Homo sapiens: one gene and its partners. The protein of the gene in region 1 purifies or fractionates together with the protein of each later gene. This does not show direct contact. Each region holds a gene or a part of one and is shown on either strand. Other genes may lie near its edges.

What was found.
Region 2: the proteins of PGLS (region 1) and CLIC4 fractionate together in Homo sapiens (co-fractionation; one large-scale study listed by BioGRID). This does not show direct contact.
Region 3: the proteins of PGLS (region 1) and TALDO1 fractionate together in Homo sapiens (co-fractionation; one large-scale study listed by BioGRID). This does not show direct contact.
Region 4: the proteins of PGLS (region 1) and GCSH fractionate together in Homo sapiens (co-fractionation; one large-scale study listed by BioGRID). This does not show direct contact.
Region 5: the proteins of PGLS (region 1) and FDX1 fractionate together in Homo sapiens (co-fractionation; one large-scale study listed by BioGRID). This does not show direct contact.
Region 6: the proteins of PGLS (region 1) and IMPA2 fractionate together in Homo sapiens (co-fractionation; one large-scale study listed by BioGRID). This does not show direct contact.
Region 7: the proteins of PGLS (region 1) and GLOD4 fractionate together in Homo sapiens (co-fractionation; one large-scale study listed by BioGRID). This does not show direct contact.

What each region holds. Positions count from the first base shown.
Region 1 is NC_000019.10:17,518,149-17,521,648, reverse strand, and holds the end of PGLS (6-phosphogluconolactonase), read right to left. Parts: intron 706-3,500; coding exon 568-705; 3' UTR 361-567; downstream 1-360. UniProt on the Homo sapiens protein: Hydrolysis of 6-phosphogluconolactone to 6-phosphogluconate.
Region 2 is NC_000001.11:24,814,947-24,818,446, reverse strand, and holds part of CLIC4 (chloride intracellular channel protein 4), read right to left. Parts: intron 1-3,500. UniProt on the Homo sapiens protein: In the soluble state, catalyzes glutaredoxin-like thiol disulfide exchange reactions with reduced glutathione as electron donor. Can insert into membranes and form voltage-dependent multi-ion conductive channels.
Region 3 is NC_000011.10:757,464-760,963, reverse strand, and holds part of TALDO1 (transaldolase), read right to left. Parts: intron 2,015-3,500; coding exon 1,907-2,014; intron 843-1,906; coding exon 711-842; intron 1-710. UniProt on the Homo sapiens protein: Catalyzes the rate-limiting step of the non-oxidative phase in the pentose phosphate pathway. Catalyzes the reversible conversion of sedheptulose-7-phosphate and D-glyceraldehyde 3-phosphate into erythrose-4-phosphate and beta-D-fructose 6-phosphate.
Region 4 is NC_000016.10:81,089,896-81,093,395, forward strand, and holds part of GCSH (glycine cleavage system H protein, mitochondrial precursor), read right to left. Parts: exon of another isoform or gene 1,196-3,500; coding exon of another isoform or gene 1,102-1,195; intron 786-1,101; coding exon 706-785; intron 1-705. UniProt on the Homo sapiens protein: The glycine cleavage system catalyzes the degradation of glycine. The H protein (GCSH) shuttles the methylamine group of glycine from the P protein (GLDC) to the T protein (GCST).
Region 5 is NC_000011.10:110,428,538-110,432,747, reverse strand, and holds the start of FDX1 (adrenodoxin, mitochondrial precursor), read right to left. Parts: upstream 2,801-4,210; 5' UTR 2,628-2,800; coding exon 2,443-2,627; intron 1-2,442.
Region 6 is NC_000018.10:12,002,007-12,005,506, reverse strand, and holds part of IMPA2 (inositol monophosphatase 2), read right to left. Parts: intron 1-3,500. UniProt on the Homo sapiens protein: Phosphatase that can use myo-inositol monophosphates, myo-inositol 1,4-diphosphate, scyllo-inositol-1,4-diphosphate, glucose-1-phosphate, beta-glycerophosphate and 2'-AMP as substrates in vitro.
Region 7 is NC_000017.11:768,781-772,280, forward strand, and holds part of GLOD4 (glyoxalase domain-containing protein 4), read right to left. Parts: intron 2,682-3,500; coding exon 2,545-2,681; intron 1,728-2,544; coding exon 1,641-1,727; intron 1,378-1,640; coding exon 1,264-1,377; intron 1,176-1,263; coding exon 1,089-1,175; intron 1-1,088.

The DNA of each region.
Region 1 (3,500 bases):
CGAACTCCCGACCTCGTGATCCACCAGCCTCGGCCTCCCAAAGTGCTGGGATTACAGGTGTGAGCCACCGCGCCCAGCTAATTTTTGTATTTTTAGTAGAGAAGAGATTTCACTATGTTGGCCAGGCTAGTCTCGAACTCCTGACCTCAAGTGATTTGCCCACCTCATCCTCCCGAAGTGCTGGGATGACAGGCGTGAGCCACTGTGCCCAGCCTGTTGTCTTAGGAAATTCATCCATGGTGGCTATGCCCCAGGGAAGCAGGCCCCGCCTTCCTCCCCACAGATGAGGGCTATGGATCAGAACCCAGGCCAGGGCGCCCCCAGGCCTGCTGCCATCAAACACCGCGAGACAGTGCAGACTTCCAGCAACGCTCCTTTTAATATCCGGATGTCCAGAGCCACAGCCTGTGTGTTGAGCCCCGGGTAGGGCTGCTGGCCGGAGGCTGTTGGCTTCCAGCAGCAGCACGACGTGGCTTTTTGAAAGGAGAGCCCGGAGAGTGGCGGCCAGCAGGGGCCCAGCCCCATGGGCCGCGTGCCTGGTCCCAGCTGCGGCGTCCCTCTGGCCAGCTACAAAGTGGAATGCTTCTCGAAGGGCACGGTCAGGAGGCGGGCGGCCGCCTCGTCCAAGAACCAGCACAGTTTCCCGGTGTGGGGCTGGACCAGGGCGGCGGGCAGCGGGTTTTCCTCCTGGTCCTCCAAAATGCGCTGAAGAAGAGGGCAGAAGAGTAAGGCCCTGCCTGCGGCCCAGGCACCGCCCCTCGGCACTCTCCTGGCTCCCCAACCAAGGATAAATAAGACTCTTGTATCCTCAAAATGTGACAATGCCCAGCTCAGCTGTCCTAGTGCCAAACAGCAGGGACAAGAGTCCCTTCCTTTCTATCCACTGTAACTATTTTTATTTATTTATTTATTTATTTTGAGATGGAGTCTCACTCTGTCTCCCAGGCTGGAGTGCAGTGGTACGATCTTGGCTCACGGCAACCTCCGCCTCCCGGTTTCAAGCGATTCTTCTGCCTCAGCCTCCTGAGTAGCTGGGATTACAGGCAAGTGCCACCACGCTCGGCTAAGTTTTTTTTTTTTTTTTTTTTTTTTTTGAGATGAACTCTCGATCTTATCCCCCAGGCTGGAGTGTGATGGCGTGATGGTGCGATCTTGGCTCACTGCAACTTCCGCCTCCCGGTTTCAAGCAATTCTCCTGCCTCGGCCCCCCAAGTAGCTGGGATTACAGGCGCCTCCCACCACACCTGGCTAATTTTTTTGTTTTTGGTAGAGACGGTTTCATCATGTTGGTCAGGCTGGTCTAGAACTCCTGAACTCAGGTGATCCACCCGCCTAGGTCTCCCAAAGTGCTGGGATTACAGGCGTTAGCCACCGCGCCTGGCCTAATTTTTTATATTTTTAGTAGAGACGGGGTTTCACCATATTAGCCAGGCTGGTCTTGAACTCCCACGTTGAGCCACCATGCCCCGCCCACTGTAACTATTTGCATTTTTTTTGAGACAAGGTCTTGCGCTGTCATCCAGGCTGGAGTACAGTGACGGCATCAAGGCTCACTGCAGCCTCAATCTCTGAGGCTCAAGTGATCCTCTTGCCTCAGTCTGCCAAGTATCTGGGACCACAGGCACATGGCACTGTGCCCAGCTAATTTTTTATTTTTTGTAGAGACAGGGTCTTGCTATGTTGCCAAGACTAGTCTCAAACTCCTAGACTCAAGCAATCCTCCTGCCTCAGCCTCCCAAAGTGCAGGCATGAGCCACTGTGCCTGGTCTGTAACTGTTTAATACTGCGGTTGGCACCCTTTTTCAGCAAAAGACCAGAGTCAATAGATTAAGCTCTGCAGACCATCCAGTCTCTATTGCAACCACTCAGCTCTGCAGTTCTGGCCCCAGAACAGCTGCAGACAATATATACATAAGCGGGTGTTGCTATGTTCCAATAAAACTTTTCTGGGCCGGGTGCGGTGGTTCATGCCTGTAATCCCAGCACTTTGGGAGGCCGAGGGGGGCGGATCACTTGAGGTTGGGAGTTTGAGACCAGCCTGGCCAATGTTGTGAAACCCTGTCTCTACTAAAAATACAAAAATTAGCTGGGCGTGGTGGCAGGTGCCTGTAATCCCAGCTACTTGGGAGGCTGAGGCAGGAGAAGCACTTGAACCCGGGAGGTGGAGGTTGCAGTGAGCTGAGATGGCGCCACTGCACTCCAGCTTGGATGACAGGGTGAGAAGCTGTCTCAAAAAAACAAACAAACAAAACAATTTCTGGACACTGTAATCTGAACTTCATAGAATCTTCACAAGGTCAAGGAGTATTATTCATTTGATTTTTTTTTTTTTTTGAGACTGAGTTTCGTTCTTGTCGCCCAGGCTGGAGTGCAATGGCATGATCTCGGCCCACAGCAACCTCCGCCTCCCGGGTTCAAGTGATTCTCCTGCCTCAGGCTCCTGAGTAGCTGGGACTACAGGCGCACGCCACCACGCCTGGCTAATTTTTGTATTTTTAGTAGAGACAGGGTTTCGCCATGTTGGCCAGGCTGGTCTTGAACTCCTGACCTCAGGTGATCCGCCTGCCTCAGCCTCCCAAAGTGCTGGGATTACAGGCATAAGCCACCGCGCCCCGCCTGATTTATTTTTTTTGGAGATGAGTTCTCGTGATGTTCCCCAGTGCAGTGGTAATTCACAGTTGCAATTACATTTCACTATAGCTTCGAACTCCTGAGCTCGAGTAATCCTCCTGCCTTAGCCTCCTGAGTAGATGGGATGATAAGCATGGCCTGGCTCTTCATTTGACTTTTTTCCAACCACTTAGAAAAGTAAAAACCAGGCTAGGCACGGTGACTCATATCTGTAATCCCAGCACTTTGGGAGGCCAAGGCAGGTGGATCACATGAGGTCAGCAGTTTGAGACCAGCCTGGCCAACATGGTGAAACCCCCTCTCTACTAAAAATACAAAAATTAGCCAGGCCTGGTGGCAGGCGCCTATAATCCCAGCTAGTCAAGAGGCTGAGGCAGGAGAACCGCTTGAACCTGGGAGGTAGAGATTGTAGCGAGCTGAGGTCACATCAGTGCACTCCAGCCTTGGCGACAGAGGGAGACTCTGTCTCAACAACAATAACACAAAAAACAAAAAAAAAATAAAAATATATTTCCAGTTTCTTCTGTAGTTGTTGGTCTTTTCAATGAAGGCAACTAAAACCTTTTTAATTATTTAGTTTATTTTTAATGCTGTAATGAATTTGTATTTTCCTAAAATACTTTACATAACAGTACCTTTTTTTATTCATAATACCACGTGATTTTTTTTTCTCTTGATTAGCCTTGTCAGGAGCTTTTCTATCTTTTAGATCTACTTACCATTAAAGTTTAAAATATATTAACCAACTCATTAATTTCTGACTTTAATTTCACTTAGTCCTGCCACTGACTTTTGTAGATTTATATTATTGTCCTTTTTCTAATTCTACAGGAAAGCACTTGATTTATTTCAATAGTTTGCTACTTAAT
Region 2 (3,500 bases), on another chromosome or scaffold:
GGCATGGTGGCAGGTGCCTGTAATCCCAGCTACTTGGGAGGCTGAAGCACAAGAATCACTTGAACCCAGGAGGCAGAGGTTGTAGTGAGCCAAGATTGTGCCACTGCACTCCAGCCTGGGTGACAGAGTGAGCCTCTGTCTCAAAAAAAACAAAACAAACAAAAAAAAACCAAATTGAGTAACTTCAGGTATAACTTGTCTTATTGTGCTTTGCTTTATTGAGCTTTGCTTCATTGTGCTTTGCAGATATTACGTTTTTTACAAATTGAAGGTTTATGGCACCCTGAGTCAAGCAAGATGGCGCCATTTTTCCCAGCAGCATGTGCTCACTTCATGTCTCTGTCACACTGTGGTATTTTTCGCAATATTTCAAAACTTTTCATTATTATTGTATCTGTTATGATGATCTGTGATTAGTGATCTCTGATGTTACTCTTGTAATTGTTTTGGGGGCACCACAAACCACACCCATATAAGACAGCACACTTAACTGATTAATATCATATGTGTTCTGACTGCTCCAGTGATTGCTGTTCCCCTGTCTTTCCCTCTCCTCAGGCCTTCCTGCTCCCTGAGACAAAATAATGTTGAAATTAGCCCACAGTTGATGACCCTACAATGACCTCTCAGTGTTCAGGTGAAGGGAAGAGTCACATATCTCTCACTTTAAATCAAAAGCTAGAAATGATTCTGCTTAGTGAGGAAAGCATGTCGAAAGCTGAGACAGGCCAAAAGCTGAGATAGGCTGAAAGCTAGACTTCTTCCACCAAACAGCCAAACAGCATATACAGAAGAAAAGTTCTTGAAGGAAATTTAATAGTGCTATTCCAGTGAACACACAAATGATAGAGAAAAACAGCTTTATTGCCAATAGGGAGAAAGTTTGAGTGGTCCAGATAATCAAACCAGCCACAGCATTCCCTTAAGCCAAAACCTAATCCAGATCAAGGCCCTAACTCACTTCAGTTCTATCAAGGCAGAGAGAGGTGACAAATCTACAGAAGAAAGTTTGAAGGTAGCAGAGGTTGGTTCGTGAGGTTTAAGGAAAGAGGCCATCTTTGTAACATAAAAGTAAAACATGAAGCAGCAAATGCTTATGCAGAAGCTGCATGCAGCCAGTTATCTAGAAGATCTAGCTGATCTATCTAGAAGATCTAGCTGATCTATCTAGAAGATCTAGCTGATCTATCTAGATCTTCCTTCATCACCTTCATCTGATGATCTATCTAGAAAATCTGATCTACCTTCAACAATGATCTATCTAGAATTGATCTTCTAGATAGATCATTGATGAAGGTGGCTACACTAAACAGATTTTTAATGCAGACAAAACCTTCTATTGAAAGATGTCATCTATGATTTTCATAGCTACAGAGAAAAAGTCAACGTCTGGTTTCAAATCTTCAAAGGACAGGCTGACTCTGTTAAGAGTCTAATCCAGCTGTTGACATTAGGTTGAAACCCATGCTCATCTTCCATTCCAAAATTTGAAGAACCCTTAAGAATTATACTGAAGCTACTCTACAGATGCTCTATAAATGGAACAATAAAGCCTGGATAATGGCACATCCATCTGTTCACAGTATGGTTTACTAAATATTTTAAGCCCACTGTTGAGACCCACTGCCCAGGAAAAAAAGATTCCTTTCTAAATATTACTGCTCATTGACAATGCACTAGTCCCCCCAGAACTCTGATAGAGATATACAGGGAGATCATGGTTGTTTTCATGCCTGCTAACACAACATCCATTCTGCAGTCCATAAATTTTGACTTTCAAGTCTTATTATTTAATAAACACATTTCATAAGGCCATAGAAAGTGATTCCTCTGATGGATCTGAGCAAAGCAAAGTGACCTGGAAAAGATTTACCTTTCTAGATGCAATTAAGAACATTCAGCCAGGTCTGGTGGCTCATACCACACCTGTAATCCCAGCACTTTGGGAGGCCGAGACGGGCGGATCATCTGAGGTCAGGAGTTCAAGACCAGCCTGGCCAAAATGGCAAAACCCCAACTCTACTAAAAAATACAAAAAAATTAGCTGGTCATGGCGGCAGGCACCTGTAATCCCAGCTACTCAGGAGGCTGAAGCAGGAGAATTGCTTGAACCTGGGAGGTGGAGGTTGCAGTGAGCCGAGATCGCATCACTGCACTCCAGCCTGGGCGATAAGAACGAAAACTCCGTCCAAAAAAAAAAAAAAAAAAAAAACACGAACATTCATGATTCATGGGAGGAGGTCAAAATAGCAACATTAACAGGAGTTTGGAGGAAGTGGATTCTAACCCTCATGGACGACATTCACAGGTTCAAGACATCAGTGGAGGGAGGAACTACATATGTGTTGAAAATAGCAAGAGAACTAGAATTAGAACTGGAGCCTGAAAATGTAATCAAATTGTTCTACCTTCATAATAAAATTTGAATGGATGAGGAGTTGCTTCTTATGATGAGCAAAGAAAATGGTTTCTTGAGATAGAATGTATACCTAGTGAAGATGCTAAGAACATTGTTGAAATGACAACAAGGAATTTAGAATATTACATCGACTTAGTTGTTAAAACAGCAGGAGGGTTTCAGAAGATGGATTCTAATTTTGAAAAAGGTTCTACTGTGGGTAAAAACACTATCAAACAGGGGTGCATGTTCTCAGGACCTCTTGAGATTAGCCTCAGGCAAAGAATATTTACTTTAAAATTTTTAAATGCTATCAAACACTATTGCATGTTACAGAGAAATCTTTCATGAAAGGAAGAGTCCATCAATGTAGAAAAATTCATTGTTATCTTACTTCAAGAAATTGCCACAGCCACCCCAACCAGCAATCACCATTCTGATCGGTCAGTAGCCAGCTACATCAAGGCAAGACCCTCCATCGGCAAAAAGATTGACTCGCTGAAGGCTCAGATAACCATTAGCATTTTTTAGCAATGATTTTTTTTTGAGACGGAGTTTTGCTTTTGTCACCCAGGCTGGAGTGCAGTGGCACGATCTTGGCTCACTACAACCTCTGCCTCCCTGGTTCAAGCAATTCTCCTGCCTCAGCCTCCCGAGTAGCTGGGATTACAGGTGCCTGCCACCACGCCCAGCTAATTTTTTTTGTATTTTTTAGTAGAGACGGGGTTTCTTCATGTTGGTCAGACTGGTCTCGAACTCCCAACCTCAGGTGATCCATCCGCCTCAGCCTCCCAAAGTGCTGGGATTACAGGCATGAGCCACCACACCCAGCCTAGCAATGAAGTATTTTTAAATTAAGGTACATGCAATATTTTCAGACATAATGCTATTATTGCACACTTAAAACACTACAGTATACTACTGTAAATATAACTTTTACATGCACTGGGAAACGAAAAATTTCACGTGACTCATTTTATTCCAATATTCATTTTATCACTGTGGTCTGGAACCTAACTCGCAATGGTCTGGAACCATACCCTTCAGGGTATGCCTATAATTATTTTAGAACCCTCCATCTCAATAATCCCATTCCTGGAAA
Region 3 (3,500 bases), on another chromosome or scaffold:
CGCCTCCTGGGTTCAAGCAATTCTCCTGCCTCAGCCTCCTAAATGGGACTACAGGTGTGTGCCACCATGCCCGGCTAATTTTTTATATTTTTTAGTGGAGTCGGGGTTTCACCGTGTTAGCCAGGATGGTCTCGATCTCCTGACCTCGTGATCCCCACGCCTCGGCCTCCCAAAGTGCTGGGAGCCACCGTGCCCAGCCTAAAATTTCTTTATATTTTTGTAGAGACAAGGTTTCACTTTGTTGCCCAGGCTGGTCTGGAACTCCTGGGCTCAAGTGATCCTCCCATCTCAGCCTCCCAAATTGCTGGGATTACAGGCATGAGCCATCTTGCCCAGCCAGCATATATTTTATATAACAATAGTTTACTTTTTAAAAATCATGTAAACATAGGCTTGTGTTGATCAGGACAGAGGAAGGACAGAATCTGAATCTGCAGGTGCTAACTAGTGGCTTTTCTTCTCTGCTGAGTGGGTGGATGGTACTTCCTGGGAAATCCCTCATTTCTGATCACCAGCAAGTGAGGGAGCTGGCTCTGGAGCAGAGGGCAGATCTAGGCTGACATGAGCTGGTCAAGTCCAAGCTGTGGGCTGTGCTCCCCAGTCTGGCATTCCCCAGGGCTGAGAGAGTCAAACTTGCCTGATGCCATGTAGACCCTGCTCCAACAGAGGAAAAATCTCTGAGAGCTCCTTCCTTGTGGGGGACCACTTACTTTCCAGCCTGAATTCCTTCCCAGGTTGATGACAGCTTTATAAGAATTCGGTCCTTGCTGATCCCAGCTTCCTTGTAGAGCTCGATGAGCCGCCTGGCTCTGGCCACCATCGCATCTTTATCAAAGGAGAGCCTGTAGGAGCAAGAAGAACCCATCCCCTCAGATCACGCAGGTTGCCCACCACGCAGAGCAAGCTGGAGGCCGGGTGTCTGCCTGTCAGTTTTGAGCAGCACCACCGTGAGCACCAACCACTGCCCTCAACCTTCCCCTCACTGGAGGTTTGCAGAATGGCTCTGACAGCAACTCACACCCAGTCTCACAAACAGAGGTCCTCAGTGGGATCCATAGGCTATAATTTGTATTAAAAAACACTGGGCCAGGTGCCGTGGCTCACGCCTGTAATCCCAACACTTTGGGAGGCTGAGGCGGGAAGATCACAAGGTCAAGGGATCGAGACCATCCTGGCCAACATGGTGAAACCCTGTCGCTACTAAAAATACAAAAAAATTAGCTGGGTATGGTGGCGGGTGTCTGTAGTCCCAGCTACTTGGGAGGCTGAGGCAGGAGAATCGCTTGAACCCGGGAGGTGAAGGTTGCAGTGAGCTGAGATCACACCACTGCACTCTACACTGGCAACAGAGCGAGACTCTGTCTCAAAAAACAAACAAAACAAATCAAAACAAAAAACACTAGCAGCCGGGCACAGTGGCTCATGCCTGTGATCCCAGCACTTTGGGAGGCCGAGGCAGGTGGATCATGACGTCAGGAGTTCAAGACCAGCCTGGCCAAAATGGTCAAACCCCATCTCTATTAAAAATACAACAAATTAGCTGGGCATGGTGGCAGGTGCCTGTAATCTCAGCTACTTGGGAGGCTGAGGCAGAGAAACGCTTCAAGCCGGGAGACAGAGGTTGCAGTGAGCTGAGATTGCGCCACTGTACTCCAGCCTGGGTGACAGTGCGAGACTCCATCTCAAAAATAAATAAAAATAAAAATAAAAAACACTAGAGATCAGTTGCTAAACAAGGAGCTCTTGGTCATCACTACCAACTGTGGGAGAGCTCAAAATAAACCTCCTCTTGGGCCCTTGGGATGAAGACCATGGGTGGAGCAGCCCCTTGACCTCATGTTGGCATCCACGTGTGCAACTGTGGACACCTGACCAGCCCATCCAGTGCAGGAGCAAGCATCCTTACCTTGCGTCTACTTCTGTGGATACTCGGCCCGGAATCTTCTTTAGTATTTCTGCTCCAAACAACACAAAAAGTTTATCAATAGCATTTTTAATCTGGTCCTCTTGTGACCTGAAATTCAAAGGGAAAAAAAGCAGGTTAGAAGCTTCTGAGGTTCGCCAGGTGCGGTGGCTCACGCCTGTAATCCCAGCACTTTGGGAGGCCGAGGTGGGCGGATCATGAGGTCAGGAGATCAAGACCATCCTGGCTAACACGGTGAAACCCCGTCTCCACTAAAAATATTAAAAAATTAGCTGGGCATGGTGGCGGGTGCCTGTAGTCCTAGTTACTAGGGAGGCTGAGGCAGGAGAATGACGTGAACCTGGGAGGTGGAGCTTGCAGTGAGCAGAGATCGTGCCACTGCACTCCAGCCTGAGCGACAGAGCGAGACTCCATCTCAAGAAAAAAAAAAAGAAGCTTCTGAGGTTCAAGTGCACAAGACTCTACAAAATAAATTCTGTTATTTCTTTGCCAAATTTCCTTCCCTCCATCTTTTTTTTTCTCTTAAAACATTTTTTTATTGTGGCCAAATAATACATATAACATAAAATTTCCCATCTTATCCTTTTTTTTTTCCCCCAAGACAGGGTCTCCAGCTAAGGCTGGAAGCACAGTAGTGTGATTATGGCTCATTACAGCCTTGACCTCCCGGGCTCAAGTGATCCTCCTGCCTCAGCCTCCCAAGTAGCTGGGACTACAGCTGCACACCTCTATACCTGGCTAATTTTTTTGTTTTGTTGAGATGGAGTGTCACTCTGTCGCCCAGGCTGGAGTGCAGTGGCACAATCTCGGCTCTGCCAGCTCTGCCCCCCGCGGTTCACGCCATTCTCCTGCCTCAACCTCCTGAGTAGCTGGGACTACAGGCGCCCGCCACTGTGCCCGGCTAATTTTTTTGTATTTTTGGTGGAGACGGGGTTTCACCGTGTTAGCCAGGATGGTCTCGATCTCCTGACCTCGTGATCCGCCTGTCTTGGCCTCTCAAAGTGCTGGGATTACAGGCGTGAGCCACCACGCCTGGCCCATGCCCAGCTAATTTTTATATTTTTTTGTAGAGACAGAGTTTTGCCCTATTGCCTAGACTGTTCTCGAACTCTTAGGCTGAAGGGATCCTCCCATCTTGGCCTACCAAAGCACTGGGGTTACAGGCGTGCACCACTGCCCCCAGCCCACCATTTTAAAATGTATTCAGCACATTCACAGTTCTGTACAACCATCACCATCCATCTCCAGAGCTCTTTTCATCATCCCAAACTGCATCCCTCTATCTTTTGGCACTTGCAAAATATTATATTTTCTATCTCTTCAAAGTTATTGGACAGACACCCAGTGAAGTCCATGATTCTGTTCCAAAATCTGAGCAGCCTTGTTAGCCCACTACACACAGGAAGATCTTCAGCTAGACGCTCAGAGGTTAGAATTCTTGGGCCAGACTGGGTGCAGTGGCTCACGCCTGTAATCACAGCACCCTGGCAGGCCAAGGTGGGCAGACTGCTCAAGCTCAGGAGTTCGAAACCAGCTAGGGCAACATGGTGAAACCCTGCCTCTAAAAACAAATACA
Region 4 (3,500 bases), on another chromosome or scaffold:
AATGGTGGCAACACCCTGCTCTTCTTTTTCCTCTTTCCTTAATTGCCCAGTACAAAACACACACATTTCCTTCTTGAATAGGACATGTTTCCTACTTTCAGTGTTAAGCTTGCAACATCTCTTAAAACACCACATAATGCCCTAACTAAATTATGTTTTACTTAATTCAACTCTGGTTGGTTTTCTTACTTTCTTTCTTTCTTTTTTTTTTTGGAGATGGAGTCTCACTCTGTCACCCAGGCTAGAGTGTAGTGGTGCAATCTCGGCTTACTGCAACTTCTGCCTCCCAGGTTCAAGTGATTCTTCTGTCTCAGCCTCCTGACGAGCTGGGATTACAGGTGTGCACCACCAAGACCAGCTAATTTTTGTATTTTGCAGTGACATGATCATGGTTCACTGCAGCCTCAACCTCCTGGGCTCCAGCGACCCTCCTGCCTTAGCCTCCTGAGTAGCTGGGACCACAGGCATGAGCAACCATGCCAGGCTAATTTTTTTTTTTAACTTTTGGTAGAGACGGGGTCTCACTTTGTTGACCAGGCTGGTCTTGAACTCCTGGCCTCAAGCAATCCTCCTGCCTCAGCCTCCCAAAGTGTTGGGATTACAGGCATGAGCCACCTCACGCAGCCTAAACACTTTTAAAAAGGTAGAGATAAAGCAAATCATGCAAGAGCACACTGGGACAAATATTTCAATATAATCCAATACCTGTGCAAAATTGCTGATTCCCACTGTTCCAATGCCATTTTCTGTTGTTACCCATTCGTGTTTCTCTGTGAATTTACGCACTAAAACAGAAGACCAACATTTCAGAAAAGCAGTAGCATTACTTCTTAAGAAGCACTTTTCATTACCATTGCTTTCAAAAGACTTTCCCAGAATTTCTGTTTGACCTGTTGACACTACCTTTAAATAGTGCATGGCTCAGGAAAGAATGAAGATCATGTATAGAGATGACGCATTTAAACAGCAGTACCATTTAAGCAAAGATGGCTTCATCTGAACACCTTGTGCATCTTTTGGAGATTGGATTATCTGCTTTAACATTACTTAGCCTAAATCACAAAAGAAAATTTTGGAGCATATTTCAAATGTATACTTAACTATTACTGGTCTGTCTTGCAGAAAAAAAAATCTGTGCCTCTGAAGACAAATTTGGGGTGATGAGGTTTAGGGAGGCAGCATAAAGATGGCTCATATAAGAAATGATTTAACCTAAAAAAAAAAATAACAGTAATAATCAGGTGCCTCTTTAGGCAGAGTTGACCTAAGAGAGCTTCAGTGCAGCTTGGGTTACAAAGTAAAATTTTACAGGAATGAAACTGACCTCCTGGAACAACTATAATTTGACTAAGTTCTTAAAATTCTACTTTAATCAAATTCAAGCCTAACCTTGAAGATAGCACTACCATCGCTTAAAGAAGAAAATTAAGATCACAACTCAACAGTCTTCTCAGAGCTAAGCCATGGGTTGGTGGAGAATCAAGCTCTGCTCACCACTCACTGGACAGGTTCAGCCCTCGACTTACTGAGCACTTCTCTAAAGATACGGTCAAACGATTCAGGGAATCCTGAAAGAAGGACCGGCCAATGTTCAAGAGTAAAAAGAGTTATTTAGGATATAAAGTTAAAAGTACTTGCCTTAGAGAATAATATTTTTTAAAAAGCATATGCTATATTAAATACAGTTCATATTCTGACACCAAGTATTTTTCTAAAAACAATGCAACGTAAGTTCATAGAAAAATGGTTAACTCAAATACTGTTTTAAAGAGGCCTCACTGGCTCATTTTACCCCTTACCCAAAGGATAGTAGTACTTAAAACAGCATTCAATTGCTTTGGTTACAGCTCTGATACGCAGCACAACGTAAGTAGAGTGTATAATTATTATTTTTATTTTTTATTTTTGTAGAGATGGGGGGGTCTATGTTGTCCAGACTGGTCTCAAATTCCTGAGCTCATGATCCTCCCACCTCAACCTCTCACAGTGCTGGGATAATAGTGTGTGAGCCACCGTGCCTAGCCAAGTATATAATTCAATATTGCTTTCTTTTCCCCTTAATTATGAAACTTTCTAAAGTTCATACCCCTTCAGTGGAAGAAGTCAAAAAATGTGTCACTAAGAAATTTATTTTGCTTCATTCCACTTCAAAGAACTGAATGTTTCAGGTCACTCTGACGTTCAGGTAAGAAAGTTTAAGATGTGTACACTGTGTTTTGACTGAAAGACTCTCCCTACCATCTTTACTAACTACTTCCGGTCTAGATTCAGAAGTCCGTTCCTGCCCAAAGGCTTGTCTAACCAAGTCTAGGTTCTTAGGCCAGCCAACATGCTCTTACGGCACCCTGTACCACTATCCCCCAGCACACACACGGTGCTGAACATACTAGAGATCATCTGTCAGTCTCCCCAGGAAGTAGGCTGTGTACCCACCAAGAAACAGCAAGGTTTATCTTATTTTCATTTGTTTTCCCAATTTTAAATACAGTGCTTGCCACATAGCAAGCACTCAAAAGCTGAAGGAATGAAATAATTTTTTTTTTCCTTAAATTATCATGTCGCAGGCCAGGCACAGTGACTCATGCGTGTAATCCCAGCACTTTGGGAGGCCGAGGCGGGTGGATCACCTGAGGTCCGGGGTTTGAGACCAGCCTGGCCAGCATAGTGAAACCACATCTCTACTAAAAAAATACAAAAATTAGCCAGGTGTGGTGGCACACTCCTGTAATGCCAGCGACTTGGGAAGCTGAGGCATGAGAATTGCTTGAACCCAGGAGGCAGAGGTTGCAGTGAGCTGAGATCACGCCACTGCACTCCAGCCTAAGCAACAGAGCAAGACTCAGTCTCAAAAAAAACAAACAAAAAAAATCCCTGGGCGTGGTGGCTCATGCCTGTAATCTCAACACTTTGGGAGAAAAATATATATATTTTTCCCCTTAAATTATCATGTTGCAGGCCGGGCACAGTGGCTCATGCCTGCAATCCCAGCACTTTGGGAGGCCAAGGCAGGCGGATCACCTGACGTAAGGAGGTCAAGACCAGCCTGGCCAGCATGGTGAAACCAAGTCCCTACTAAAAATACAAAAATTAGCCAGGTGTAGTGGTACACGCCTATAATCCTAGCTACTTGGGAGGCTGAGGCAGGAGAATCACTTGAACCTGGGAGGCGGAGATTCCAGTGAGCCGAGATTGCACCATTGCCTGGGCGACTAGCGAAACTTCATCTCCAAAAAAAAAAAAAAAAAGTTGCAGAATGACGTGATTTTTTAAAGTTTATTAAGAGGATTCTGAGGAAAATAGATAGTATATAGTTATTTGTCTTTAACACTTAATTCTCTCACTCTGCTACAAATCGCCGGTTATATGCCAATTATGAGCAGTTTGAAGCTAAAACACCTTTTCAAAGTAAGCACTGGACAACTATAAACACCACCTGAGACTACCTTCTTTGACCTTGCCATCTTGCCTACCTGTGAAGATAATTTTAGGAGTAAGGCTGC
Region 5 (4,210 bases), on another chromosome or scaffold:
CCTGTAATCCCAATACTTTGGGAGGCTGAAGCAGGCAGATTACTTGAGGCCAGGGGTTCCAGACCAGGCTGGTCAACATAGTGAAATCTCATCTCTACTAAAACTACAAAACTTAGCCGAGTGTGGTGGCACGCGCCTGTAATCCCAGATATTCGGGTGGCTGAGGCACGAGAATCGCTTGAACCTGGGAGGTGTAGGCTGCAGTGAGCCATGATGGCACCACTGCACTCAGGTGAAGAGTACACCAACACCTCCAAAATCACCACTAAAGAACTAACCCATTAACCAAACACCACCTGTGCCCCCAAAACTACTGAAATTTTAAAAATAAATAGAAATTTAAAATTTTTTTAAAATCCGCAAAAACTTCTTGAGTTCTAGTCCTAGTTTTGCCAGCTACTTAATATGAAATTTTTATTCCCATTTATCTACCCTCCCTACCTCATAGAATTGTCTTAAGAGTCATACGAAACAATACACGTGAAAGATCTTTGCTACCTGAATCACTGCAAACCCCCTTGTGTCACGGTATTTTAGAGTAAAAGGAGTTTTTCTGACTCTCAATTACTGATAGCTTATCGAGTTGTTAAACTTCAAAGACAGAACTACAGTTTCTAGAACTGCTCTGTCTGTCTATAAGAACTTTGTGCCATAACAAAGATGTTCTACACATACTTGCAATGTCCAATACAGTAGCCACTAGCCACATGTGGCTACTGAGAACTCGAAATGTGGCTAGTGTAACTACGAGATTGAATCTTTAATTTTATTTACCTTTAATTATGTTAAACTTCAATAGCCACATGTGATTAGTAGTTACGGTAGTTACAGCACAAGTCTCATTAACACAGTAAGAACTGGAAAATCCAGTTGTAGCTCCAAAGTCTGTAAGAGGAATGATAAGACCATGAATAGAAATTGTGCCAATAAAGAGGGCAGCAGGATTATGAGGAAATAGACGTGCTCCCCTTTAAAACAACCTGACATATCCAAATCCAAAAAACAAATCTGAGAAAGATAACTCCCAATTACTACAAAAACATTCATGTTCCCTTATACCAGTTACACAAGCATGTTCAATATCTGTCCCAATTGATTCAGTTGTCCAAAACTCATCCATTGTATAACAGAAAGCAAGGTACCCACACTGGTCAAAGACAGGGGGGGAAGTGCAGAGGAAACAGGAACAAATAAATCTGGCTTGCCTTCTCCCTGATTTCCCCCAAAGTTCACACAACAAAAATGTATGGAGCACCCACTAGATAACGGGATTAGTGGGGAAAAGATGACTGAAAGTCTTAGACCCTGCTCTCAGAGACCTCAAAAAGAAACTAGACAAAGCAGCGTACAAATCCAACACACTCTCCCTCTAGTTCTCGATTCCTGCTACCCTACATCATGCGGTCAAAGAGCTGTCGAGAGATCTGCATTATATAAATCGCCACCATGTTGGTAAAAATTATGTGTAAATTGTATCTCTAGTATATCTAAGGAGTGTCTTTGAAAAACAAATATGCCCAAGAACCTAAAACTTCAACACATTTGGGATAAATTGTCACATTTCTTTCAATATTTAATACAAAACTCTCTTAACATTGTGAACCTAAGAAGCTGCTGCTGCTGCTGCTGCTGCTGCTGCTGCTGCTACCAAGTGGCATCTACTGAGCCCTCATTACGTGCTAGGCACAAGACTACCTGTATCGCTGTATTAACTCATTGATTCTTCAATTAACCATAGGAGGTCTACACTGTTATTATATCCAACTTGCAAATGGAGAAACTGGGTTCCTAAGGACTGACCAAGTTAGGCACGTCAGACAATCAGTGCCAAAGCCAAGTTTCAAGTCCCGGCAGATTACTTCAACGCAGGGGCTTTCAACACTTGAGCAACTAGCAAAGGGCCTACAGGGCAGCAGAGGGTATGGGCTGGGTGTATTCTACCTGGACACCCCCTGACAAAGACCTGGGACCTGGGTGTCCTCTCAAAGCAGGGCAAGGCCCTGAAAAAAACAGCTGGCAGGTGTGTCAGGCCAGGACAGCAGGAGGGAAGCCTGTCGCGAAGGTCACTGCCAGTTTCGGGCAGAGCAAAGGTCAGATCCCAGACAAATCACACGGAGAACAAGCAGCAGCAAAGTCCCGGCTTTCCTCAGGGCACGGGAAGCGCTGGGAAAGGGAGCTGGGCGTCCAGGGTCCCCGATTCCCGCCGGGAGTGGGTGATGCGGAAAGGAACTCTGCGGTGCGACGGAAGGGAGGCAGCGACGCCACCGAGCAGCGAGACGGAGCCGCGAGAGCACCCCAGAAGAGGGGGGCGAGAGGCAGGCCTCCGGGGTGTGGGCCCGGCGCGCAGAAGGCACTGGAACCAGAGACTCGGCCCAGAGAGCCAGGCGCCACCCACCGGGGACCCCGGCCCGCGCCGGCGATCGCGCCCGCACGGCGCCCTACCTGCTCCGGGCCCGCGCCGACACGCTCAGCGACCGGCTCGCCTCCGCGCTCCCGCCCGGCCCCCGGTTCCTCAGCAGGCCGCTGGATCCAGCGCGGGACCCAGCGTGGTGCAGCCACCGGCCGGCCGGGCCGCCGAGGACAGCAGAAGCGGCGCGCAGCAGCCGGGCGCCCCCAGCGGCAGCCATCGCCCGCGGTCGGGAACTGCCGGAAGCGACGCAGGCCGCGCTTTGAGGCCGCGAGAGACTCCAAAGAGGCGGGGGCGGCAGCTGCGGCGCAGACGCCCGAGGGCCGCGGCGAGGGGCGCGGGGCTGGAGTGGCGGAGAGACCCTGCTGGAAGCACCGCGCCGAGGTTCCGCGTGCCTTCCGGGTGACCTATAAAGACATTGGCAAGCAGAGCGCGGCCCCGCCCCGCCTCTCACGCCCACGCCGCCCGGTCCCATGGGGCGGGGCCAGCGCAGGGGGCCTTTACCAACCCTCCAGGTTCCGTTGTAAGCTGGATGCTTTTTTAGCGGCTGAAGTTGCCGTGCAGAAACAAAATATTTTGAAAGATAGCTGGACGTCTAGCGGAAATCGGTTAGCTAGACCACTGTGTTCTGTTCCGCATACCCCCATCCCCTAGCCGTTAAAAAAAAAACTGGGAAATTGTGTCATCTTGGAGTCAAGTTAGAGCAAAGTGAATTCTGCCCACTGTAAAACAAAAACAGTGGGAAATTTTGGAAAATCTCAGAATGCTATTATACAAAGAAATAATTATGACTATAAAATTGTAAATGAAATTAATGAATAGGCTTGGGGCTCCTGCAGAGGACAGGTAGCCATCCTAGACCTTGACTGGCAAGTAAATGCTGGCTGAGTACATGAAACCCACGAGACTGAACCGGAAACTTTGTGATGAGCTGAGATCTCTAAAAGACTTTCACAAAAAACAGAAAAGATGAACTTTAAAATACACCTTATCATGGTTCATATGTTGTGGGAAATGCATGGGCTTTAAGGTCAGAAATAGCAATGTTCAGATCCAAGATCTACTGCTTTAGAGATCTGAGACCTTGGAAAAATTATTCTCATGGAGGATCAGAGTTTCCATAACTCTCAAACACAGATAAGATGTTCCAGCCTTCAGGGCCATTCTGATGTTAATCTAATACGCAATGCACACCGTGCGTCACAAACCAGGAAGGCTACCGCTTCCTGGGCCTTCCTCCATCAGGGTACTCATAAAGAGGCTAAAGGCCAAAGTCAAGGGGATATTGCAGATATGCTAAACACAATCAGATACTTTTTTTTTCTTTTTTTGACATGGGGTCTCTCTATTCTGCCCAGGCTGTAGTGCAGTGGCGAAATCTCGGCTCACTGCAACCTCCGCCTCCCAGGTTCAAGTGATTCTCCTGCCTCAGCCTCCCGAGTAGCTAGGACTACAGGCGTGTGCCACCACACGCCACTAATTTTTGAAGATTCAGAACAAGAAAGTGTAAGCATGAGTAAAGTATCTGCGGACAATGTATGGTGCTTTCTGGAACCCAATGGCAGAGAGAAGGCAGTGGCTCCTAATTGCCTCAAATCGTTGGATGAAGAGAAAGTCTTTCAAGCTGCGAAGGGCACAGCAAACCCTGACAAGTAATCTTGAAGAGGAGGTTGTAAAAGAACAGCTAACTTTTGTTTTTAGTAAGACCAAACTTCCAAGGTCGGATGAATTAGTTGTAGGAAGAGAATTGAAAAGAAAAAAAATCGTAGATGTTCTGTCTTCTCTCAGCCCTCCTGTAGCAAA
Region 6 (3,500 bases), on another chromosome or scaffold:
GAAATTTTTTTTTTTTTTCTTGGAGACATGGTCTCGCTTTGTCAGCCAGGCTGGAGTGCAGTGGCACAATCATGGCTCACTGAAGCCACAAACCACTGGGCTCAAGCAATCCTCCTGCCTCAGCCTCCTGAGTAGCTGGGACCACAGGCATGCATCACCACACCTGACTAACTCTGCCTCACATTTTTTATGAGAATAACTCTAAGTACCCACACTGAGCACTGGATGTTTTTCAGCAGCTGATCATTCATACCCTAGAGCTGTCTTCCTCATCACCCACCTTGTGTACACCTCTGCCCATGAGACTGCCTGCCCGCCTACAAGGTGGCACGAGCATCCCCCTTCCCACCTGCCTCATGCTTGTGGGCAGCAGGGAGCAGGCTTCTGCACTGTGTGGCTGCAGCGGTGTGAAGGCCAGCAGAGGCGTGAACCGTGCTCGGTCTTTGGAGGCACCAAAAATACTTCCCTGGTACATGGGAAGAGATGCACAATTTTTATTCACTTAAACCTGATTTTACTCATGTAGGAAGCTAATACCTGTGAGATGAAAGACAATGTTTTACAGCTGTCTGCAGAGGGAGTGGGGAGAGTCTGCTCTGCAGACATGACTGTAGACAGATGTGTGAAATCATAAAGACCTTCCTAAAAGCCACTGGAACATCTACATAGAATCCACAATATAGGCAGGGCACGGTGGCTCACGCCTGTAATCCCAGCACTTTGGGAGGCTGAGGTGGGTGGATCACTTGAGGTCAGGAGTTCAAGACCAGACTGGCCAACATGGTGAAACCCCGTCTCTACTAAAAATATGAAAATTACCCAGACATAGTGGTGCATGCCTGTAATCCCAGATACTTGGAAGGCAGGAGAATCGCTTGAACCCGGGAGGCGGAGGTTGCAGTGAGCAGAGATTGCACCACTGCACTCCAGTCTGGGCTACAGAGCAAGACTCCATCTCAAAAAAAAAAAAAACCCACAATATAAATAGGAAAAAAAATGCACATGACTAAATTTAGGGAAAAAAAGAACATTCCATACGTCTATCCAATAGACAAGAGGAAAATAGCAACTGGATTAAGGCTAAAAGTTTGGTAATAAGTTATTATAGAATATTATATCCTACTGCATAACTTAACCACTTTTCTTTTTTAAAAAATAGTTTTAACAAACCCTCCTTATAATTTTGACAGCTGAGTGCCTTTAAGCCCCTTTTTTCTTTCTTTCTTTTTTTTTCTTCTGGCTACTTAGTCTGTTTAGTCTGTGACAAGAAGGTCAGGATCATCCCTGCTGTCCACAAAGGAGATGATTTATGATACTCTGTCCCCATCTTCACAAGCCACTGCCCAGTGGGAAAGCAGCTGGATGTCAATGTTCAGCTGGTGGTGGCTGGGAGCATGTTTTTCCCATGTCAAGGATTCTGTTTGATGTTTTGCTTGACTCACGCATTCAACAGACACTGCTCTGTGCTGGGCACTGCAGGGCAGCAGGTTACATGGGGGCTCTGGAGCAGGGCTGGGAAGACAGCTAAAAACACTAGACCCTTGAGCTGCTGACCTCATCTCTGGGCCTAGGCCAACCCAGAGAAGCTCCAACAGGCTGCTCCACAGAAGGGACAAGGACGGGGTTTCTATCACTATAGCTCAGGGATGCTACTGAATCTTTTCCAAGTAGCTACACTTGTATCTCACTCAAAATCATCATCTGAAAACAGGTTTAGGCGCCCCACAAAGCCAGGGCATGGCAGGAGACAGCTATGTGGCCAAGGCCAACAGCACACTCCAAAGACCCAATCTATAAAAACCCGGCCTTACCATGCTGCCTTTTTTTTTTTTTTTCCTTTTCTTTTTTTTTTTTTTAAGATGGAGTCTCACTGAGATGCCCAGGCTGGAGTGCAATGGTGCAATCTCAGCTCACTGCAACCTCCACTTCCCAGGTTCAAGCGATTCTCCTGTCTCAACCTTCCAAGTAGCTGGGACTACAGGCATGCGCCACCATGGCCCAGCTAATTTGTTTTCCTATTTTTAGTAGAGACGGGGTTTCATCATATTGGCCAAGCTGGTCTCGAACTCCTGATCTCAAGCTATCCACCCACCTCGGCCTCTGAAAGTGCTGGGATTACAGGTGTGAGCCTCTGTGCCCAGCCCTGGTTTGCTTTTTGTCATGTTACGAGTTAAATGCTGGGACTTCAGGGATGACCATGGTCAGGTCCCTCATTCACAGGTGAGGAGTTCGAGGCCCTAAGTGGTGAGATTTGCCAAAGCTGCTAGGGCCAGTGACAGAAGCAATTTTATTTATTTATTTTTTATTTTTTGAGACAGAGTTTTGCTCTTGTTCCCCAGGCTGGAGTGCAGTGGCGTGATCTCAGCTCACTGTAACCTCCACCTCCCAGGTTCAAGCGATTCTCCTGCCTCAGCCTCCTGAGTAGCTGGGATTACAGGCACGCACTACCATGCCCAGCTAATTTTTTGTATTTTTAGTAGAGATGGGGGTTTCACCATGTTGGCCAGGCTGGTCTCGAACTCCTGACCTCAGGTGATCCACCCGCCTCGGCCTCCCAAAGTGCAGGGATTACAGGTGTAAACCACCGCGCCCAGCCTATTTATTTTTTTGTTTTGAGGCAGGGTCTCACTCTGTTGCCCAGGCTGCAGTGCAGTGGGGTTTTTCATAGCGGCTGCATCAATTTACATTCTCACCAACAGTCTGCAAGGGTTCCTTTTAATCTACATTTTTTTTTTTTTTTTTTGAGACAAGGTCTTGCTCTGTCACCCAGGCTAGACTGCAGTGGCAGCATCACAACTCGACCTCCAGGACTCAAGCGAGCCTCTCACCTCAGCCTTCCAAGTAGCTGGGAGCATAAGCGTGCACCAGCATGCCCAGCTGATTTTTTAATTTTTTTGTAGAGATGGGGATTCACCATGTTGCCCAGGCTGGTCTCAAACTCCTGGGCTCAAGCAATCCTCTGACCTTGGGCTCCTGAAGTGCTAGTATTACAGACATGAGCCACTGCACCCCACCAGAAGGAAGTTTAAACCTTATCATTCTTTGATTCAGTCTACACCTGTCTTCCAGGTCAAGGAGCAAACCTTTGGATTTCATGGATGAGTGAAATAAAATAATAAAACTGGGGAGCCTGTATCAGGTTTTTAAAAAAATGTTATTAAGTCTATTTTTAATATCATTTCATGAAAGACTAAAATCAAGGAAAGAGAAAAGCTCAGAATAAAAGTCTTTCCTAAAGGAGGATGAGAGGCAACTTCAAATTAAATATATTGTTTAAGGGATATATTTAAATACTTAGAAAGCAGAAAAAAATCACAATGTCCTATTTTACAATATGTATACAATTTTCTCTCATCACAAATTTATCAACTTTTCTATGATCTAAAATACAATTAAATCCCCAAAATTTACTTTCTTTTTAATCTTAGTCATTGGCAAAAAAAACTCACTTCACATAAATATGTTGAAAAACAACTGCATTTGATGTCAATTTTTGAGGC
Region 7 (3,500 bases), on another chromosome or scaffold:
GAGAGAAACAGCGCGCACTCAGATTTTTAGAAGAAGAAATCTGGAGAGGACGTGAGAGAGAGAAACAGCGCGCACTCAGATTTTTAGAAGAAATCTGGAGAGGATGTGAGAGAGAGAAACAGCGCGCACTCAGATTTTTAGAAGAAGAAATCTGGAGAGGATGTGAGAGAGAGAAACAGTGCGCACTCAGATTTTTAGAAGGAGAAATCTGGAGAGGAGATATGGGGTCAGTAAAAGGTTTTTAAAGGATGGGAGCTTTCAGCGCCTGTTTGCACGCTGGCGAGAATAACTCACTGGAAAGAAGAGACTGATGCTGCAGAATGGAGAAGAGATGATCAAAGGAGCTGCAGAGCTGAGGGGATCAGATGGAGGCATCTCCCTGGGGAGAGCTGAGGGGAACGGATGGAGGCATCTCCATGGGGAGAGCTGAGGGGGTCAGATGGAGGCATCTCCACGGGGAGAGCTGAGGGGATGGGATGGAGGCATCTCCATGGGGAGAGCTGAGGGGAACGGATGGAGGCATCTCCATGGCAAGAGCTGAGGGGATGGGATGGAGGCATCTCCATGCGGAGAGCTGAGGGGAACGGATGGAGGCATCTCCATGGGGAGAGCTGAGGGGGTCGGATGGAGGCATCTCCCTGGCGAGAGCTGAGGGGAACGGATAGAGGCATCTCCATGGGGAGAGCTGAGGGGGTCAGATGGAGGCATCTCCATGCAGAGAGCTGAGGGGGTCGGATGGAGGCATCTCCATGGGGAGAGCTGAGGGGGTCGGATGGAGGCATCTCCATGGGGAGAGCTGAGGGGGTCGGATAGAGGCATCTCCATGTGGAGAGCAGAATAAGCACAGATCCACCAGCAGTGGTTCCAGGGCAGCCTGAGGTTGTGGTAAGGCACAAATGCTAAGTCTAGACAAGCAGTCTACACAGGTGGCAGTGAAGACATCGGTCCTTGGCTGAGGTCAACCCAACAGCGAAAGGACGTGGTTCTGACATTAAGAACCTGGACCCTGTTGCTTAGTCTCCTCCCACACACACTTAATGCCATCCCTCTCAGGCCCATGGTGACATAAATGTAGAAATGGGACTCACATCATCCAACAATTTGCTTCCCTCTGGATCCATCTTAGAAAGTTCTCGAAATGCTTCATCCCCGACAAAGCAAATTTCATGTCCGTCCTACACCAATAAAGAGAAAAGACACCTGCCAAAGACATCCTTGAAGAAACCCCTGGTCCAGCCTGCCCCCTGCCTGAGAAATACTTACAGGGTCGGCCAGAATGACCACCTGTACTGTTGCTTTCCCTGGGGTGTCCAGGCTCACCAGGGGAGTCAGAATCTTCTGGTTCTCCCTTTTCATCAAGTCTTCTAAGTCTGGCAACTTGAGGAAAACAGAGGCAACGTGAGCCAGGGGTCACACACTACTCAGGACACGGCCCTCGTCAGTCCTAGAGGAGTATCAGATACCATAAAGAACCAAGGCGCCATTTGTTTGAATTTATTATCTCAGCTGCTCTTGAAACAACTGCTGAACTTGATACTAAAGCCACAATCAAAAAGGACCTCAAGAAGGGAAGGACAAAGTTCTTAGCTGGGTTGAACTAGCTAGTCAGAAAGCTCAAACGATCTGGTATCAAGCGTTACCTCTTTCTGGGGGCAAGAGAAGGCAATTCTTCCAAAAGCTGCTGCATGGTCCACCCCACCCTTGACGCCCTGTAGCTCCAGCTTACACTGAAATAGGAAAGGGGGTTATTTTTTGGAACAGGTTATACATTCATTACACGTATGTGGTAGAAAAATTCAAATATTATATACTAAAGGAATAAAGTAAAAACTGAGTCTCTATCCTACTCTCACCCCAGAGACAACTAGTCCACACTTTCCTGTGTATCCTTCTAGAAGCACTGCACGCATCTATGTTTTTTTTTTTACACAAATGGTGGTATAATTTACAAATTATTCTGTTCCTTGTTTTTCTCCACTTAATGTTACCATGTCAATACATAAAGATTTGCCTCAATCTTTTTGCTAGCGACATAGTAATCCATTCCATGAATGAGCCGTAAATTACTGAAATATGTCTCTAATCTATAGGACACTGAAATTCTTACACATTGTGATTACAGACAATGCTGCAGCAGATAACCTTGCACACACTTCTTTGTGCCGATGTATGTTGAGCACATCTGTAAAATAATTCCTAGGAGTAGAATTGCAGGGTCAAAGTGCAAGGACTAAATCGTGCTCAAACGCTGGGTTATTAGAAAAAGAAGATGAAAAAGATCTTGCATTAAATCCATTCAATCTCTTGGATTAAGCAATTCCACTTCTGAAGAGATATATCCCCAAATATAAACAAGGTAATATCTGGGTGGTAAGGTTATCACTTATTTTCTTCTGTTTATCTATATAAATATTGAATCACTGTGAAGAAACTATGGGAACAACCTTCATGTTAACTTCATTTATAAAGGTTATAAGCCATTTATAAGCTTCGTTTACAAGCCAAATTCAAAGTAACAGGTTATTCTTCTCCAAGATTGCTCACCTGGTTATCAGCATAGCCCAGCAAAGCCCTTTGCTTTTCTTCATCTTTTTCATAAATTTTCATTCCCAGTAGATTACACCAGTAGTTCAAGGACTTTTGAAGATCAGACACTGCTAGAGTTACTTTTAATACAGGATCTGTTGGGTAATAAAGCAGGAATAGACAGATCAATTTAATAGAATAAAATAGAAAGACCAAAACATGCGCATGTATACTTACAAATTCAGTTTATGATAAGAAAGGGATTTTAAGCCAGTATGAAGCTGGGTGCAGCGGCCCATGCCTGTAATGCCAGCACTTTGGGAGACTGAGGTAGGAGGATTGCGTGAGCCTAGGAATTCAAGACCAATGCAGGTAAAACACTGAGACCTTGCCTGTATGAAAACTTTAAAAAAATTGGCTGGGTGTGGTGGCTGATGCCTGTAATCCCAGCACTTTGGGAGGCCAAGGCAAGTGGATTACCTGAGGTCAGGAGTTTGAGACCAGCCTGGCCAACATGGCAAAACCCTGTCTCTACTAAAAATAAAAAATAAAAAAAATTAGCTGGGCGTGGTGGCGCACGCCTGTAATCCCAGCTACTCGGGAGGCTGAGACAGGAGAATTGCTTGAACCTGGGAGGCGGAGGTTGCAGTGAGCCGAGATGGCGCCGTTGCACTCTAGCCTGGGAGACAAGAGCAAAACTCTGTCTCAAAAAAAAAAAAAAAAAAAAAAAAGATTAGACAGGCGTGGTGGCTCATGTGTGTATTCCCAGCCACTTCAGAGATGGAAGCAGGAGGATCGCTTGAGCCCGGGAGGTTGAGGCTGCAGTGAGCCAAGACTGCACTACTGCACTCCAGCCTGGGTGACAGTGAGACCCTATCTCGAAAAAAAAAAAAAAAAAAAAAACAAAGACAGTATGAAAAGCCTCATTATTCAATGGACGGCGCTAAGAAGACTGGCTAATCATTTGGTAAGAA